4 linked regions of the Homo sapiens genome follow. The protein of the gene in region 1 interacts with the protein of each later gene in a pairwise test. Each region holds a gene or a part of one and is shown in the gene's direction. Other genes may lie near its edges.

What was found. The genes of interacting proteins can lie anywhere in the genome.
Region 2: the proteins of RFFL (region 1) and alpha-crystallin A2 chain interact in binary tests that used the Homo sapiens proteins (3 or more experiments, as listed by UniProt).
Region 3: the proteins of RFFL (region 1) and ZDHHC17 interact in binary tests that used the Homo sapiens proteins (3 or more experiments, as listed by UniProt).
Region 4: the proteins of RFFL (region 1) and CRYAA interact in binary tests that used the Homo sapiens proteins (3 or more experiments, as listed by UniProt).

What each region holds. Positions count from the first base shown.
Region 1 is NC_000017.11:35,021,613-35,026,254, reverse strand, and holds part of RFFL (E3 ubiquitin-protein ligase rififylin), read left to right. Parts: intron 1-4,473; coding exon 4,474-4,642.
Region 2 is NC_000021.9:6,497,736-6,502,573, forward strand, and holds the start of alpha-crystallin A2 chain, read left to right. Parts: upstream 1-1,467; 5' UTR 1,468-2,038; intron 2,039-3,284; 5' UTR 3,285-3,459; intron 3,460-4,838. Other genes in the region: splicing factor U2AF 35 kDa subunit-like protein, read right to left, coding at 1,394-1,437. UniProt on the Homo sapiens protein: Contributes to the transparency and refractive index of the lens. In its oxidized form (absence of intramolecular disulfide bond), acts as a chaperone, preventing aggregation of various proteins under a wide range of stress conditions.
Region 3 is NC_000012.12:76,851,115-76,854,767, forward strand, and holds the end of ZDHHC17 (palmitoyltransferase ZDHHC17), read left to right. Parts: 3' UTR 1-2,582; downstream 2,583-3,653. UniProt on the Homo sapiens protein: Palmitoyltransferase that catalyzes the addition of palmitate onto various protein substrates and is involved in a variety of cellular processes.
Region 4 is NC_000021.9:43,167,537-43,172,378, forward strand, and holds the start of CRYAA (alpha-crystallin A chain), read left to right. Parts: upstream 1-1,471; 5' UTR 1,472-1,563; coding exon 1,564-1,752; intron 1,753-2,699; exon of another isoform or gene 2,700-2,795; coding exon of another isoform or gene 2,796-2,873; intron 2,874-2,980; coding exon 2,981-3,103; intron 3,104-3,500; exon of another isoform or gene 3,501-4,046; intron 4,047-4,534; coding exon 4,535-4,744; 3' UTR 4,745-4,842. UniProt on the Homo sapiens protein: Contributes to the transparency and refractive index of the lens. In its oxidized form (absence of intramolecular disulfide bond), acts as a chaperone, preventing aggregation of various proteins under a wide range of stress conditions.

The sequences.
Region 1 (4,642 bases):
GCTGTCCCTTTCACAAAAATGTTCAAGAAGAACTAACTGAGTAAAAGCAAAAGCAAAGCATGTCAGCATAGATTTGGAGTCAGTAGACCTAAATTCAGTTATCAGCGTTGCTACCTACTAGCTATATGATCTAACCTCTCTTGAGATTCAGTTTCCCTGTTATAAAATGGGGATGATTGTAGTCCTCATCTTTCAGGGTTGTGGGAATAAAGTGAGACAAGAAAGCCATGAAAGGTGCCTAGCACAATGCTTAGAATGTCGTAGGCACTTGATGTTATTTCCATCATTAGCCACCATCACAAAGGCCTGATTGCAGATTAACTTGTTCTTTTTATCAAAAGCAACGTTAAGGATGCCTCAGGTACATGAAGACCATAACAAAGACTGGAGCTTATTTACTGTAGCAGATTTCATTTGAAATGCTTGGGAGCCATGCTTCCCAAATGAATGAGCTGGAAAAAAAATTACTGGCTAGATAATGGTGTCTAGGTGTGCACCCTCCCTCTTCCAGAGGCAGTGAGTTATCTGTGATCAAGCATGACTAGGCAGAAGGTAAACCCTCACCTGGATAAAGAACTCCTGCATTCTGCATTTTTCTGCAGAATGAGAGGTTTGCAGCTCAGAATAAGTGATAGGATATGATGTTAAAATGGTGATCATGGGAAATTTGAGAGGAAATCATACTTTTAAACCATCTGCTATGTGCAAAGGACTGTTTAAGGAATTTAAATTTTTTTATTTCATTTAATCCTCACAATAGCTATGATATAGGTTTTAGAATCTCCCAAATCCCATTTTACATATGAGAAACTAGGGCTTAGGGTTTAAAATTTAAGAAGAACATTGAATGTGTTAAATTCCTGACAAATAGCATGAGAGATATTAAAATACTCATTCTTTTCCCTTGACTTCAGTAGTGCTCAAGATCACATAGTTATTAAATGACAGAGCCGGGATTCAAACCCAGGTCCTTGATTCCAAAGCCCCTCCCAGAAGACATTCAGCATGTCGAGTAGAAGATGACAGTTACAGGCCTGGGTGCCTAGAAAAGCATGGCAATGATTAAAATAAGGTGCTTTTTTTCTTACTTATTGGAAAATGAATTACTGAATATCTACTGTGTATCAGGAATTGCCTGGGCTAGGGAGGCAGAGATGAAGAAGGCCATTGCTGCTTAACGGGGAGCTTGCAGTTGGACAGGGAGGTGAGGACAGTGCACACCATACGATGTGACAAAAGAAAAGTGTGTGTAACAAGAGCTTCTGGAGGGGAAGAAAAATTCCAGTTTGGATGGTAAAAGATGGTTATTGGTACAATATTTTCTTGCTACAATATTTTCTTGCTACAAAAGTATGAGTTAATTTTGTGCAATTTACAGTGAATTTTGTGAATATTAAGGGTGTTTTCATCTATGAGAATTTTTCATTTGTAATTTCATGCTTAAGTGGATCAGCATTCTTATCTTAAGGGTTTGGCATTTAACACCCAGGGGCTTTCAAAATGTCTTTTTCTAGAAGTGCTTGAATTGAAATGATTCCATGGATCCTACTATCTTTTTCTTTTCCTTATTCTTCATTATGGTCAGTACTTTCTGAATGCTTATTGGGTGCAAAGCACAGATAACATTCAGGACTTTATAGACAGAATATAAGTAAGATGTGGCCCTTGCATTCCCTGAGTTTTCAGTCCTAAAGAGAAATGGCAGGCTGTACTTTTGCCACAAGCCAAATACCCCATCTCTATTGGTAATACCTCCCTGTGGTTTAGCAGCGACCCTGACGGTTTTGGAGGGAGTCTGGCACCCAGCCTCTTTAGTTGGACCAGTTGGAGGATGAGGTTATGCTTGGAGCCATGGAAGTGATATTCAGATCTCAGAGTGTTAAGAGAGGACTGGGTCTTAGGTGCTGGTAAGGGGAAAGAAAAAGGTAACCGTGTTACCTTTTCTGGAGCATCCACTTTGTGCTAAGGTTTTATATACATTCTCTCATGTAATACTTCCCATATTCCAGGGAATAGGGTGGGAGGGAGTAGGAGCAAGGGAAGGGCAGTTGGCAAACGGGAGCCAGCAGAACCCTGCACACGGCATCCTTGAAGGGTGGTGTCGGCCTGAGGCGCCACGGCCAGTTCTGTGATGCTGGATATCTCAGTACACCCTGGGCATTTCTGCAGGCATGTTGGTTGCCTCCACTAATTCATCTTTCATGCTACCTGGTTACTGAGTTGTTTTGAACCATTCGGCAGAATTTATACATAAGTGTGTCCTTTGCTCATTCTGCCTGCATTTGTTGACAGCCCTTTTTTCCTTTCTTCTTGTTTTCTTCTGCCACTGCAAACTGGGGTTTTAGCCTCAAGCCCTATCCTGTTCCTGTAGGGTGTGTTTCAGATGCCAGCTTATTTCAGAGTTCCCTGTGAGCCAGCGGGTGCATAGAAGCTAGGTTGTTGTCTGCATTCTGATCTTGCATCCAGCAAGCCACACACATTTGAAGAAAGAATAGAGAGTTGTTTGGATCTGGCTGATTGAGCAACGCAGGCTTTATAATTGTGTCAAGCTAGGTCTTGTCAGACTGCATCGACTTAAGTAATATTCCATGTCAGGCCCACAGGTTTATGGCATTGAAGCCTCTTTGTTTCAGTCTCAGTCATCCTAAACAGACTTCATTTCCCAATAGAAAAGCTTTAGATGTGAATGAACCCCAAATACCTGAAAACATCCATTTTCTGCCTGCATGGCTACTGGTCCCAGAACCGTTACAATGCTAGTGCAGCCATGCATCCTTTTAAGTCCATCTCTGAACAGTATTGTTTGGTTATAACTGTATGGAGAATTAGGGAGCTTGATATATGTCCCTTTGCAATGCCTTCTAAGTCTTAATAGCCAAAACTGGGTGGTAAATATTATTTCCTTTTCCCTTTACTATGTGAATGATACTTAGACAAAACTTATATAACTATCTTAACTATGCAGACATTTACTTCAGCCCAGAGTGTCTGTGATCTTGACTATGAGAATCTTGTCTCTTGAGCTTTCTTTTTTAGCTTGAATATCTTTCTATATTTCGAAAAGATGGACCAGAAATATTTAAGTTACTACTTAAGTCAACACAGGATGAAAAGTTTTTAACTTCTTTAAAGGATTAATGAGGGTGCCCTCCAGGCCAATCCCAGTGTGCTCAGGAATTACCTCTCTTGTTGGGGATGTGACATGCTCTTGGCCAGAACAGAGCTCAGCCGGATGTCACTGTGCTCACTCAGCCTGTGGGGTGAGAGGCCGAGGATTGCTTCCTGTGGGCTGAGTAAGCCTTCCTGTGTTGTCAGCGACTGCCAGACTAGCTGCTGCCAGGCAGTACCAGCTTGCCCATCAGGCGCTCTTGTTGCCTAACTGAGACACTCTGTGCTTTCAGGAACGAGAGTACCCTGATGTCCAGACAGCCTCCCGTTGCTGTCTAAATATTTGTCTTGGATATGCTTGTAAGCACCACTGGGTTCCCAGCACTCTGAGTGGGCCTTCCTGGAGTGGGGAGCCTGTGTCGATGGAGCAGTGGGTGGGGAATTTGGAGATGGAAGCCAGGCCCTTGACTCAGAACTGCTCTGTACTTGAATGGAACTGAGCTATGCAGTATGGCCTGGTGGAAAGAATGTGATCATGGGCATTAGCCTCCAACAGACCTTGAGTGTGAATACCCGCTCTCCTGTTTATTGCCTGACCTTGAATACAACAGTTGATCTCCCTAAGCCTCGGTTGCTTTGTCTGTGAATCAGGGAAGAACACTAATACCTACTTTGCAATGTCGCTTTGAGAATTAAATGACAAGCTAGCATATAGAAGCACCTCAATAAATTAATATTAATTGTAACAACCACCACCACCATAACCTTCATGCAGAAATAATTACAGTTTAGGATTTGAATCCTGGCTGTCACCGTTAGGTAATATTTCCTAGCTATAATAAAACAGCTTACACTTGTTGAGGACTCATTTTGTGTTAGATATGCTAAATGGGTTCTCTCTTAATCTTCACAACAACCCCATGAGGTAGATACTGTTATCACCCCCATTTTACAGATGTGGAAACTGAGCACCAGAGAGGCTAAATTACACACCCAAGGTGATACTGCAAGAAATAAGGGAGGGAGGCTTAATAAAAATGCAGAGCTTTTTGATTCTTATGCTGGTAGTCTTAATTAATACCTCAGGTGCTTCAGGAGTAAATAAAGTAAGCCTCAAATTAAATAATAAATGTGAAGTGTCCTGTACATGGATATACACAATACATAGTGGAGGTCTTCCACCCGAGTGGCTTTTAATCTAAAATCTGAAAGTGGCTTGCACCCTTAGATATATGAGAGAGCTTAGTAAAAGTAAGAGTGACTGGAGGAGATCCTGCTGGGCTTGGCAGCTCTGAAGCTCCCATCGCACTCTCTGTCTTGTTCTCTCAATCTGACATGGTTTCCTGTGTCTTTTGCTCTAAGCAGCAGACCTGCTTGGACTGTAAGAAAAATTTTTGCATGACCTGTTCGAGCCAAGTAGGGAATGGGCCCCGCCTCTGCCTTCTCTGCCAACGGTTTCGAGCTACAGCCTTTCAGCGAGAGGAGCTCATGAAGATGAAGGTGAAGGACTTGAGGGACTATCTCAGCCTCCATG
Region 2 (4,838 bases), on another chromosome or scaffold:
CTAAACTCAGAAGAGTCTCTTGTTCCGATAGAGCTGGTCTATTCATTCGCCAAGATCATACCGTGAGTTCCTTAAGGATAATATCCAAATTTTACCCATGTTTAAGTCTCCAGAAACTGACCTATAGTTGACCCCCACTAAATGTTTCTGGAGTGACTATAACTGGTAGATTTTGGCTTAAAATTTTGCTAGAAATATAGCCTCCTCATCCAAACAACACAGGAGATTCTACCATGTGTGAAGAGGACATTTTACAAGATAGACTCCATCCTGGAAAAGAGAAACATTTTAAATAGCGTTTGAAAAAAGTGGCATTAAAAACATCTATGACAAACTTAGGGGTTTATCATTGAAAACATAAAGTCATGTTAACTTTGTATGGCACTGAAGAATGCCAAGATAACTAAAGAGTAGATTAAGCCAGATGCTGAGTCTTTAGGTTTTCAAAGTAAGAATTATCCTTCAAACGTCTGAAAACATTCCATTTAGTCTAAACTACAGCCAACTCACTGGAAATTAGTACGTGCCAAGGTGGCAATTAAAGCTGAAATTAAATGTTTTGCTTTTAACCTAACGATTGATTAGGGAAGGCATGCAACCTTAAGGAAAAAATCAAAACATCTTTTTCCTTATATCAGAATTGTGTCTTCAAGAACAGTCACCGACTTACAAATTTTCAACTTAGATGATGGGTTTATCGGGGTATTAAAGGCATTTTCGATTCATGATGGGTTTATCGGAACGCAATCCCATGGTAAATCCAGGAGCACCTGTATGTTAAGAGCGGATCACGTCTCTTGTGGTTAGATAGTTAATCCAGTAGTCTCCACCATACTTTTTCTCGTCATATCTCCTTACTGCCGGCCCAGCGGTCGCTTAAACAGGCAAGAGGCTGGCTAAGTGGATAAAACACCAACGCTTAGGACCCTAAGTTAGATAAGCGACTGAATACTGGCGAGGCTGGTACCAGAGCTTGCTCGACAGGACATTCACAGCCGAAAGTTGGAACAAACGTGTCCACGTCCAAAAGGCCCGGATGCTCCAGGCAACTTTCAGCGCGGCTCGAGGCGGCTTCCGGGAGCCGGCGACTCGGAGGCCCGGACGTCGGGCGATCAGCCAGTTCGGACCCCAAGGCCGGAGAAAGCTCGGCCGCGGCGCCCCGAAAAGAGACCCCATTCATTCTCCCCGCTCCATTTTTCCGCCGCGCGGCCCACGAGGCGGCGGCTCCGGAGGGCGCGCAAGGGGCCGGAAGGGCCACCGCTCCTTCCCGCCGCGCGCCCCTCCCCCGCCACCGCCGCGCCGGCCCGCCTGGGCCTCCCCGGTCGCCCTCCCACCGCCTCAACCACCCTGCGCCCCGATCGCGCCCAACCCCCGGCGGGGGGCTCCCACTCACTTGTCTTTCTCGGTGCCGAAGATGGAGGCCAGATACTCCGCCATTTCCCACCCGCCGCCGCCGCTGCCGTCGACACTGCTGCCGACGCCGCCGACCCTGCCGACGCCCGCGGGAGACGTCACCCGGACGCGACGACGCTCTTCCCCGCCCCGACGTGGCAGCGCTACCCAGTCAGGCGAGGTGCTGCCTGCGCGTGGGCGGGACGCATGCGCGTAGGGAGCACGTAGTGCGCGTGGGAGGCTCCGCCTTTTCGGTCCTGGGAACCCGCGCCCCCTGCCGGTGCCCTCCCCGCCCGGCCCTAGCTCTCTCGCCTTCTCGCCCGCCCGGCGCTGGCCCTGCTGGATCCTGCGCGCCGGGGACTGGGGGCTGGCAGTGCAGACCGAACCCGGGGCCGAGGGGCTTCTCCACAGAGCCGCCTGGGGCTCGGTGGGGGGCGCTCAGCTCGACCCCAGCTAAGGGAGCACTAGGAAGTGCGGGCGTCCCCTTCCCTGCACCCTTGCGGGGCGGGAACCGTCGACCTAGAAGAAAAAAAAAGCTGAGGCAAACTTGATATAAGTAGAGAGGTTATTTGGGCCAAGTTTGAAGATTGCAACCCGGGAGCATAGCTTCAAGTTGCCCTGAACATAGGATTTGCAACAGTGACAAGTGGGTTTATAAAGCTTAAGAGGGGGGCAGTTCTTAAATAGCTCACCAAGAATTTACATGAAAATAACAAGCTATTAATTGGCTGTACGTTGTTCTTTATATCATAATTCCAGGAAAGGAAGTTCATGGGTGAAGGCAGCGGGTCCGGAGCAATAGTGCCTTTAAACAATTGCCAGGCATGGGTGGGGACCGCTGAAGCCGCATAGACCTGTCTCTCCGGGCCGGATTAACCTCGCACGCCTCACATAGCTCGGACGCTCTGTGTTGTTTTTCTCTTCTCACACCCCTCTCCGCTTTACCCTCCCTCAGCGCTTGCCAGGTGCGACCTCCCCGGGGCCCTGCACTCTTGCAGTTGCCTGGCCAAGGCCACCCACAGGTGGAGCTGGAAGGCCAGTGACCTGCCTCTGGGATACCCTTTCAGTCTCCTCATGTCACAAGGCTGGAACCATTCCGTTGGAAGGGTTCTATTCCTCTCCTGCGTTTTAACCCCATCAAGCAGCCATTTTCATCTGGTTTCCCACATTCATCAACTCACCTGCGATTTACCTAATTTCCAACGCAACTATCAACTCTGATTAGGTAGAAGTCAGAGAGACAGGGCCTATTTTACTTACCTCCTCCACAAGATGAGCCCCAGACTGTGGGGCAGGACCATGGGATCCTCTTAGCTCGGCTAGAGCTGAATGCTGAGCTCTAGTGTTTGGGCGGATTTGCGTGTTAGAATTGCATTTCTCTTGGCAACAGAGCATCTTCCTACCTGGGAAAGATGAGCAAACTGGAAACCTGTATTAGAAACAGTAGGGCCTCAGAGGTTTAAACCAAAAAGTATCTTGAGACAGGGCTCAATCAATTTAGAAGTTTATTTTGCCAAGGTTAAGGACAATGCCTGGGAGGAAAAAAAACACGGTATCACAGAAACAGTCTGTGGTCTGTGCCTTTCTCCAAAGATGACTTTGAGGGCTTCAGTATTTAAAGGGGAAAAGTGGGCTGGAGGGGAAAGCGGAACAGTGTGGTAATCCACACGTTGCAAGAGAAAAGAAGCAGGTTGGGAACAGTCGACTGTGTACAGCTCACTCCTCAGCAAATCAGCACTTTACATAAGAGAAGCGGATGTTGAACCTTCTATCTGTAGCCGTCTGCTTAGGAACGAAAGGAAAGGCAGCTGCTTACATGACTCAGCTTTCAGCTCATTCTTTTCCTTTTGACAGAGTGAACTGGGGTCCTGACTTTTGTGTTCCTTTCGCAGAGGTGAGGCCAGAGAAGTGACAAGACAGATGCCAGTCCAGCAGGTGGGCATGTCCAGAAAGTGCAGCCTCAGGACACGGTCTGGGAACAAAGACTGCTGGAGAGTTGGAAGCTGGCAAGAGGCTCTCAGCTGTGAAGTACCTGGGGTGGGGGAGAAGTGGTCGGAGAAAGCAGAGGTAAGGTCTGTGCGTGGGAACTGAACTGAAATCCACAGCTCTATTACAAGGAATTAATCTGGTTACTAGAACCAGGGTAGATGATCAGACCAGGCAGGGCCACCAGTACCATCCACCCATTTTTCCTGAGAAAAGAAAAATAGGGTAGTCTGAGCTCTGTGAGGTGTGCAGAATGATCAGGCCCAGAGAGGCAGGAGTGTGGGACTTCATTCAGCGCCTCTTCCACCATAGAAGCAACTGTCCAGGGCAATTGTTTGATGGAATTTTTGCTCCTGACAGGCTGCCTCACCCATTATCTTCTTGTTCACATGGAATTAGTGATGCTAAGAACGATGCATAGCCAATCAGCACCTTCTGTTATTTTAATGCAAATTCTTGCTAACAACTTAGGGACTGCCTCTTCCTTTTCCTTAAAACCCCACTGTGACTGCTGCTAATGGGAACATATGTTCAGGGCAACCTAGGGGCATGTGCCCAGGGAGCCATCCTCAAGCTTTGGGCTCAAATAAACTCTATACTTAATCATATTTCCTGAATTTCATTATTTGAGGTTGACATTTTGGCAACCCAGATAGGACCTGAAGCAGGCCTTCAGGGATTGCCACTAAGTAGTGGCATCAATAGTTGGAGCCTTGGTACCAGCACAAACGACTGTTGTTTACTCGACCTCACTGGGGCTGGCAGGGGTCTCTGGTAAGGCCAGTCTTGGGATCTGAATCCTCCCAGCTTAGTTGAAGATTGAGACTTACACACTAATAATTTGATAGGGTTAGAACTGAAGCTCCACTGAAAGGTAGGAGTTTCCATTTTTATTCTCTAGAGATTCTGTTGACTGCAGATTTGTGATTTTCACTTCTGTCTGAGGTTTTGCTTGTCTTTTTACAGTTTGCAGCCTTTTCTCTCATTCGAAATTTGGTCAAGGAGAAAGTGTCATCTTTAAAACTGGCCATATTCTGAAACTTGGTTCAACTGACAAATCTAAACATTCTTCTTCTTCTTCTTTTTTTTTTTTTTTTTTTTTTTTTGAGACAGAGTCTCGCTCTGTCGCCCAGGCTGGAGTGCAGTGGCATGATCTCGGCTCACTGCAACCTCTGCCTCCTCAGTTCAGGCAGTTCTCTGCCTCAGCCTTCTAAGTAGCTGGGATTAGAGGCGCCTGCCACCATGCCCTGCTAATTTTTTGTATTTTTAGTAGAGTTGGGGTTTCACCATCTTGGCCAAGCTGATCTTGAACTCCTGACCTCGTGATCCCCCTGCCTCGGCCTTCCAAAGTGCTGGGATTACAGGCGTGAGTCACCGCGCTTGGCCATTTTCTTCTTTAGTGACCAAAATTCCTCCCCTTAGGCATTTTTGGTCATTCAGAAGGAAAATCTAAATTATGG
Region 3 (3,653 bases), on another chromosome or scaffold:
ACAGTCTTTTTTTCAACACTTTTATTAACAAAAGTAAACATGGACAGAACACACTGCCATTTCTGGGAAGAGTAAAGATGATAAAAAATAATTTTAATGGTTCTTAATGTGGAAATTCACAACATACTCAACTTTTGGGTTTTGTTCTCACAGTATTTTTCACAAAAAAAGGGTAAACTTATTCTATTGACAGACATGGTGTACTGATCAGAAATGTTCAGTTTTAACTAAAACTAAATTTATGTTATTTGGCTAAATGTTATGATGCAGTCTAGTACGAGTATTGCATCTAATTCCAGGAGCATTGTTTTAAGTTGATTGACTAGTTATTATGTACATTTCAGAATGTACACATAAATACTGTGATGAAAATCATGTGATTGGGATCTACTGTGATGTTGTCTTCAAAGGCAGGAGAAAATAATGTTCACAATAAAATGTGCTAACAATGTTTTGTTTCTATCAGCTGTTGCAATGCTGATATATTTCTAGTTCAGTGAAATAATTTGTAGTAACCTTACTCTGAGGTTTTACGGTCTGATAATGAAGCACTTGCATGAGTATAGTAAGTCATGTTTTTTTGTTCAAATTTAAAAGCCCTGCTAATTGCATGACACACCACATAGAATGTATACTAGCAGATACTATCCAGTGAAGCATAAATTAGAATTTAATTTGATGTTCAAAAACAGTTCCATTTTTAAGGGTTAAGGTGGTATTTTCAAGAAAAGGCAGAACAAATAATGCAAAATTCTCAGTAATAGTGATACATGGATATACTTCCTTTTAAATTCTCAGCTGCAAAATAATTGTAGACAAAATAATGGCATTTAACTAAAGATGGAGCATGATCTAAGTACATAGCACATGTGAATAAAAGAAAAGCTGACAGTATATTCTGGTTTCAATAAAATGACCTATCAGAAAGTAGAATTTCATCCCCAAGAGTATTTCAGTTTATCCAATATTGAGTAAGTTCTGAAACAGTTTTAGAAAAAATTTTCTTTTTGTTAAATGTGATGCACTGATCAATTTTTGTCACAGCATTTTCATACCTTCATGGTGGACTACTAGTCACTGCTTCCATAAATATTGTTTACAGGGTGAGATTTGGTTTATTCATCTTAAGTGCTGTAGCAAACTGTGGTTCGAGCAACCTGTGGGAAATCTGTGAGAGGGAATGGGGTGGGAGATGTGGGGGAATGGTGGTCAGACTGATGACAGATCCTAGACCAATGTAAAGAATGTGTATCTGTATATAAATAATTTATCAAATAGTTTTCTCTTTGTGTCTGTGTTAGTGTTTTTAAAGCTGCTCATTTCATTTTGTCCAACCAAAAAGAAAAGGGAGATAACTAATGAGCTTCTAGTGATGTTCAAAATTGCTGTTAATAGGCATTATACCCTGCAAGTTCACTGCATGTCTGATGCTTGGTAAAACTAGTCTTCCCTGTAAAATGCAGATTACAGGTATTAAAGCAATCTAGTGGTATACCCGCCCCTTGCCTTAGTAAGAGGAGCAGTGAAATGTATATAGTTGATGTTCAGTATTTCCAAGTACCATTTTTATATAGTAGCTTATTTGACCATAAGTCACACATCAAAAAAAGATTACCCTTAGTGTATGTGTTTTAATATTAGAAAATTGGCATATGTACTTTATTTTTGAAAAGGGAAGAGATGGGTGTGGGGTGGCAATAGCATTGTGCCATTTTGTCATAGAATGTAAAAATTGGTTAACTTTACAAATGTCAGCTAGTTTTGACTACTAATTGGGGGAAATTTTAGATAATTTTTAAATTCAAAGTTATTTATAAAATGCTAGAATTTGTTTTAATTTTTTGTATTTTGAGCCACTTCACATGAAGACTCAGTTGCATTTTTATCGAATACATTTTTATCAACAGTTAAAGACTATGGTGGTTTTTTCAGAGTTTGGCTAAGAATGTTGTTACCATCTTCTTTGTTTGTGGTACAATATTTTCAGTGCAAAAGAGATGTCATTCAGTTAAAAAGACAAACCTCTAGATGTGTAATTACATGGAAAATACTAGCAATGTGAATGCTTTTGTAGTAACCATCTTGTAGTACCTGTGAAATCTATAACTCAGAAATGGTCAGATGGTCAGGAGCCAGCTATGCAGCAGTATACCATCTGTTTAATTATTTTGTAGGTCCTGTGTGTGGAACCAACTATAAACCCAGTTCTAAAGTTGTGTATGATGGTGAACCTTTGGGAATAGTTCTTATCAACTTAATTGGATACTTTTAGCAAATAGGAACTTAATTCTCAGCACTGAACATGAATTACTTCCTTGGAGTTTTTTTTCATTCATATTTTTGTTGTTTCCAGGAATTTATTTGATATTAATGGGCGTAAAACAGCATCATTGTACTTAAGCTATGGATGTTTTTATTTTATATTTTCTTTATTTATAACTGTGCCAAGTATTATTTTGCTACTTACCGTGTTATTCTGTGGAAAGAAAAACCTGTAAAGTGTTTAATAAATTAGCCCTCCTTACATAAATTAAATGTCAAAATTTTGTAAAATATTAATCAGAATAAATACTGACTCTTAAGTGTGTGCTTATGATTTCACTCAATTTACTTCAGGAAATTGATGAAATGATAGTGGTACCTATGATATGAAAAGATTATACATTTATATCCTGGTTAACTAGGAGTCAAGTGGCATAAGACTGTAGGAATTTGGAAAAATAAAAGATGGTGTTAGTATTCTAAAAAAAAAAAAAAATTTCCAATCCTGTGTGTATGCATGTGTGTGTGTGTGTAATTTTTTTTTAAATAAAGATAATAAATTTTTTAAGAATTTTTGAATTCCATGTAGTTAATTAGGATCCTCAGGGACTGTATGAATCTCCAAGTTTTAAATATGTCTAAAGATACTAAAGAAAAATATTGCAAAATGTACTATATAAAGAAAAATACTGCAGAATGAAACCTACCAAACGTTGATCTCAGTTACTTGAGAAGATATGCGTGGCAGAGAGAACTTCTTTATTTGGGACTTTAAAAGGCAAAAATTATTAAGGAACTGTTTCCTGTTGTTCCAGTGGTTGTTAATGGTTTGAGAACCCAGTGGTATTAAACAGGAATATTTTCAAATTGGACTAATACTCTATCCATAATTTTAGTCTGGAGTTCAAGTAACAATATCTTGAACAACTGTATAAAGTAAAGCCGCTAGTTTTCATTCCACCCAAGTATTTTCCTCCTCATTGTCTACTTTTTATCTCTCCTAGTCCTTGCTAGATTGATGTATCATACCTGATATGGATGTCTGAGTCTAGGAGTTTTTAGACATAATTGGAAACAAGTGGTATATACCAGGACAGAAAATCTTAACATCTTGTCAGAAAGTAAAGTGCTTGTTATCAGAGTTTTCTATTAAATATATTTATGTGACTTAAAATAGAAAAAGTAGATTGAGCATTCAGAATATTCTTTGGTCTGTGTCAGCTAAGTCAGAAACTCAAGGAAACCAGGTATGCCTCTTAGAAAACTCTTGCCTTTGAATTGGATATGAATGTTTTACCCAGGTAAATTTTTGCTAAAACTGTCACTCATTTACTAGGACTGACAAATATTTTTAATAGATGGCAATGTTTTTAGATTGTTTCCATTCAAAG
Region 4 (4,842 bases), on another chromosome or scaffold:
GGCAACTTCCCACAGCCTGGACCGTACACTAGAAAAGCTAGCCTGGGAGAGGGGGCATGGCCTCTTCCCAGGCTGGCAGGGGGGATGTGGGGGAGGACCATGCTCCCCAGGGCCAGTTTACCAAAATATCAAAATACCAAAATATCAAAAGACTTAAAACTAGGAGTGAGCCAGGTGCAGTGGCTCACGCCTGTAATCCTACACTTTGAGAGGCCAAGGCAGGTGGGTCACCTGAGGTCAAGAGTTTGAGACCAGCCTGGCCAACACGGTGAAACCCTGTCTCTACTAAAAATACAAAAATAATAATAATAATAATAATAATAATAATTAGCCAGGTGTGGTGGCAGGCACCTGCAGTCTCAGCTACTCAGGAGGCTGAGGTGGGAGAATTGTTTGAACCTGGGAGGCAGAGGTTGCAGTGAGCTGAGATCGCGCCACTATATGATCTGGGCGCCACTCTGGGTGACACAGCAAGACTCCATCTCAAAAACAAACAAACAAAACCGGGAGTGCCTGGACACTTAGTGAGAACTGGACAGGGGCCATGGGTCGAGGAGCAAAATAATCACCAGGACTTGTGGATAACAGGATCATGTGGGTGGTGGGTCCGCATGGGTGACAGGGACGTGGGGACATGTCGCCACCCTGACAGGAGCAGCCCAACTCAACAGCCACGGCAGGTCATGCCACGGAGGCTCGAGGCGTTACGTGGGGATGTTACATCAAGGCATTACATCATTACGAGATGTAACGCTCGAGGCGTTACATCGAGGGGACGATGGCCATGGGGCTGGGCGTCCAGGGTGGGCCGCAGAGGGAAGCTCACCACGTGGTGCTCTCATCTGCCCACAGCCCAGCCCGTCTTCCTGTTGGAGGCATGTGACCCCTGGAGGACAAGCATGAAACGCCATAGGGCTCCCCCAGGTGCTGGAATTATGGCACCTTGCAGCTTCTTCTCCACGAGTTTTAACAAGCATGCGTACTTTTGTAAGTGGTGAGTGTAACGGAGGTTCACAGATGCACTCCGCTTTGGAAACCAGTGCACTCTTGCCCAGGCCCGGTGAGACTCTGAGGACGATGTGTCTAACCTCTGTGTCTAACGGGGGTGTGTGCTCTCCCTCCTCTGGCGACCATGAGGACCACCCCGGCAGGACAAGGTGTGCAGAGAACTAGCATGGTCCCTGGCACGTAGCCCCTGCCCAGTGACTGGCAGATGAGAAGCTCCATTGTCGCCCCAGGCGAGTATGGGGCACAGGCGCCTCCTTGGGTTGTCTGCCCTCCCGGGAGCCCCAGGGTGCCCAGGCGGGCCTCAGCTGAGTCCAGGCCTCGGGGACAGTCCGTGCAGCCCCTCCTGGGGCTGGGGGCGGGCACTTGTCCCAGCCACGTTTCTGCTGACTGAGCAGCCTTCTTCATGAGCTCACGCCTTTCCAGAGAAATCCCTTAATGCCTCCATTCTGCTGGTGGCATATATAGGGAGGGCTCGGCCTTGGCTCCACACTGCGCTGCCCAGAGGCCCCGCTGACTCCTGCCAGCCTCCAGGTCCCCGTGGTACCAAAGCTGAACATGGACGTGACCATCCAGCACCCCTGGTTCAAGCGCACCCTGGGGCCCTTCTACCCCAGCCGGCTGTTCGACCAGTTTTTCGGCGAGGGCCTTTTTGAGTATGACCTGCTGCCCTTCCTGTCGTCCACCATCAGCCCCTACTACCGCCAGTCCCTCTTCCGCACCGTGCTGGACTCCGGCATCTCTGAGGTAAGACGTGGCCCGTGGTGCTGGCCTCTCCTCGCTGCTCAGAGGGTGGTGGCCTCGGTGGGTGGAGAGCGATGGACTCTGGTCTTGCTCCGTCAGGCAGGTGGCCTCGTCCCACTTCATCCCCTTGCAGAGGCTGGGCGAGAGCCTGTGTCCCCACTGCAGCCACGTGGCAGAGCTTCCCCTGGCACTGGGGAGAGGGTGGACAAGGGAGCAGCCTGAATCCACCTTTGCTTTCCTCCATCAGCTCATGACCCATGTGTGCTTTGTAAGGCACCAGCCACATACTGGAAACCCCAAGAGCAGCCCATCCAGGCATGCGTGGTGGCGAATGCCAGCTCCCGGGTTCCTCTGGTCTCCTGAGTCCCGGAGACCTGGGAGCAGGTGGGGGTCATAGTCCTGAAAGCCAGAGAGCAGGGCGTTCCTAGCACCTCCTCCAATGAGCTCGGCCTGCCCACGGCTAGCAAAGCTCTTGGCAAGTTTACTTAGGTGCCCTGCCAAGGCTAAAAGGACAGGCAATGGACGCCCCCCCCCCCACCCAACCACAGGCCTCCTCTCTGAGCCACGGGTGAGCGGTGCAGGTTCTGCTGTTCTGGAGGGCCTGAGTCCCACCCAGCACCTCATAAACAGGGTCCTCCCCAGGGCTGCTGCAGTAGGCATCAACGCCAGGGTGCAAAATGCCTCAGGGAGCCAAGGCTGAGCCAGGGGAGTGAGAAGGAGCATGTGGAAGTGCGTTTTGGAGAGGCAGCTGCGCAGGCTGTCAGCAGGCTCCGGCCGCTTCTATAGACAGCATGACACCAAGGGCAGTGACCTCATTCCACAGGCTGAGTCCAGCCAGCCAGCCAAGCATCACCAGCCAGACGATTGACCCTAACGGACCAACCAACCCGTAACGACCCCTCCTACCATAACCAGTAGCCAGCCAGCCCATAACCAGCCAACTTATCTATAACCAGCCACCTGACCATAGCCAAACAACCAGCCGGCCCACCAGTAGCATTCAGCCCCTCAGCTGGCCCTGAGGGTTTGGAGACAGGTCGAGGGTCATGCCTGTCTGTCCAGGAGACAGTCACAGGCCCCCGAAAGCTCTGCCCCACTTGGTGTGTGGGAGAAGAGGCCGGCAGGTGACCGAAGCATCTCTGTTCTGATAACCGGGACCCGCCCTGTCTCTGCCAACCCCAGCAGGGACGGCACCCTCTGGGCAGCTCCACATGGCACGTTTGGATTTCAGGTTCGATCCGACCGGGACAAGTTCGTCATCTTCCTCGATGTGAAGCACTTCTCCCCGGAGGACCTCACCGTGAAGGTGCAGGACGACTTTGTGGAGATCCACGGAAAGCACAACGAGCGCCAGGTGAGCCCAGGCACTGAGAGGTGGGAGAGGGGGGCGAGTTGGGCGCGAGGACAAGGGGGTCACGGCGGGCACGACCGGGCCTGCACACCTGCACCATGCCTTCAACCCTGGGAGAGGGACGCTCTCCAGGGGACCCCGAATCAGGCCTGGCTTTTCCCCAAGGGAGGGGCCGTGCCCACCTGAGCACAGCCAGCCCCTCCCGGTGACAGAGGTCACCATTCCCGAGCTAATGTGGCTCAGGGATCCAGGTTAGGGTCCCTTCCCGGGCTGCACCCAGCCGTCGCCAGCTCCATCCCTGTCACCTGGATGCCAGGGTGGTCTTAGAAAGAACCCCAGGAAGTGGGAGTGCCCCGGGTGGCCGCCTCCTAGCCAGTGTACATCTTCACATGAACCCTACCTGAGGAAGCCAGTCCCCGACGGCATAGCTGCATCCGCTTGGAATGCTTTACAGGCATTGACACCTTCGCCTCACAGCAGCACTTTGGAACCAGTGTCCTCATTATTCCAGGGCACGGCTGGGGAACAAGGGGGTCCTCAGCCTGCTGGGTCCCACAGCTAGTACCGGGCAGGTGGACGGGAGCTTCTCCCCACAGTCACCCTGATGCCCCGCTCTTGCTCGGCTGGAGGCCTCGGATCTCCGTGGTGTTGAGGGAGCCGGGGCACTGGAGCCCTGGTGACCTGCATCTCCTGGCGGAGCCGGGAAGAGCTCATGGACTGTCACAGATGGACAGTGCCCCGCGGGGGCTGGAGAGCAGAGTGGGGCTGGAAGGTGGAACTCTTAGCCAAAGTCTTGGTTTCTTTTGGCCAGGGTCCTCTTTCAATGGCTGGAGAAGGTGGTGCTGGGGGGTGAACGCTGACCTCCTCATGTGCTGCCCCTCCCTCGCCTGGGCCCGGTAAAGCCCCCACGTAGCCCCAGCCAGCCTGGAACATGCTTCCTGAGCTCCCAGCTCTTGGTCTTTGCACCCAGTGGAGGAGGAGGTCAGCCCAGGGAGCTGAGTCTGCGGTTTAGGGCGTCCAGGGGACGTGGAAGCATGTGGGTCGTCTGGCCACATTAGGTAGGGCTGCAGAGACCTGGGCTAGAGCAGTCCTGCGGGGTCTGGAAGGGGAAGACTGGCTGAGGTGCGGGGCCTGGTCTGGAATGATCCTGCGATTTTGGAGTGAAGCCATGGAGCGGGAAGAGACAACCCCCCGCGGGGAATAGCCCGGCAAGTGGCCACGAGGCCAGGCTGAGGTCCAGAGAAGCAGGGGCATGAATCCATAAATCCCAGGGGGCCTGGCCATGGGATGTGCTGGCTGCACCCGGCCCCTGTGAGAGCCCCCGCAGGCTGGCCCCCTTCTGCAGTCAGTGGGGCTGGGGCAGCTTCTCTGGCATGGGGCGAGGCAGCCGCCTGCACAGTGGCCCCCCTGACTGTGCGCCCCCACCCTCTCCAGGACGACCACGGCTACATTTCCCGTGAGTTCCACCGCCGCTACCGCCTGCCGTCCAACGTGGACCAGTCGGCCCTCTCTTGCTCCCTGTCTGCCGATGGCATGCTGACCTTCTGTGGCCCCAAGATCCAGACTGGCCTGGATGCCACCCACGCCGAGCGAGCCATCCCCGTGTCGCGGGAGGAGAAGCCCACCTCGGCTCCCTCGTCCTAAGCAGGCATTGCCTCGGCTGGCTCCCCTGCAGCCCTGGCCCATCATGGGGGGAGCACCCTGAGGGCGGGGTGTCTGTCTTCCTTTGCTTCCCTTTTTTC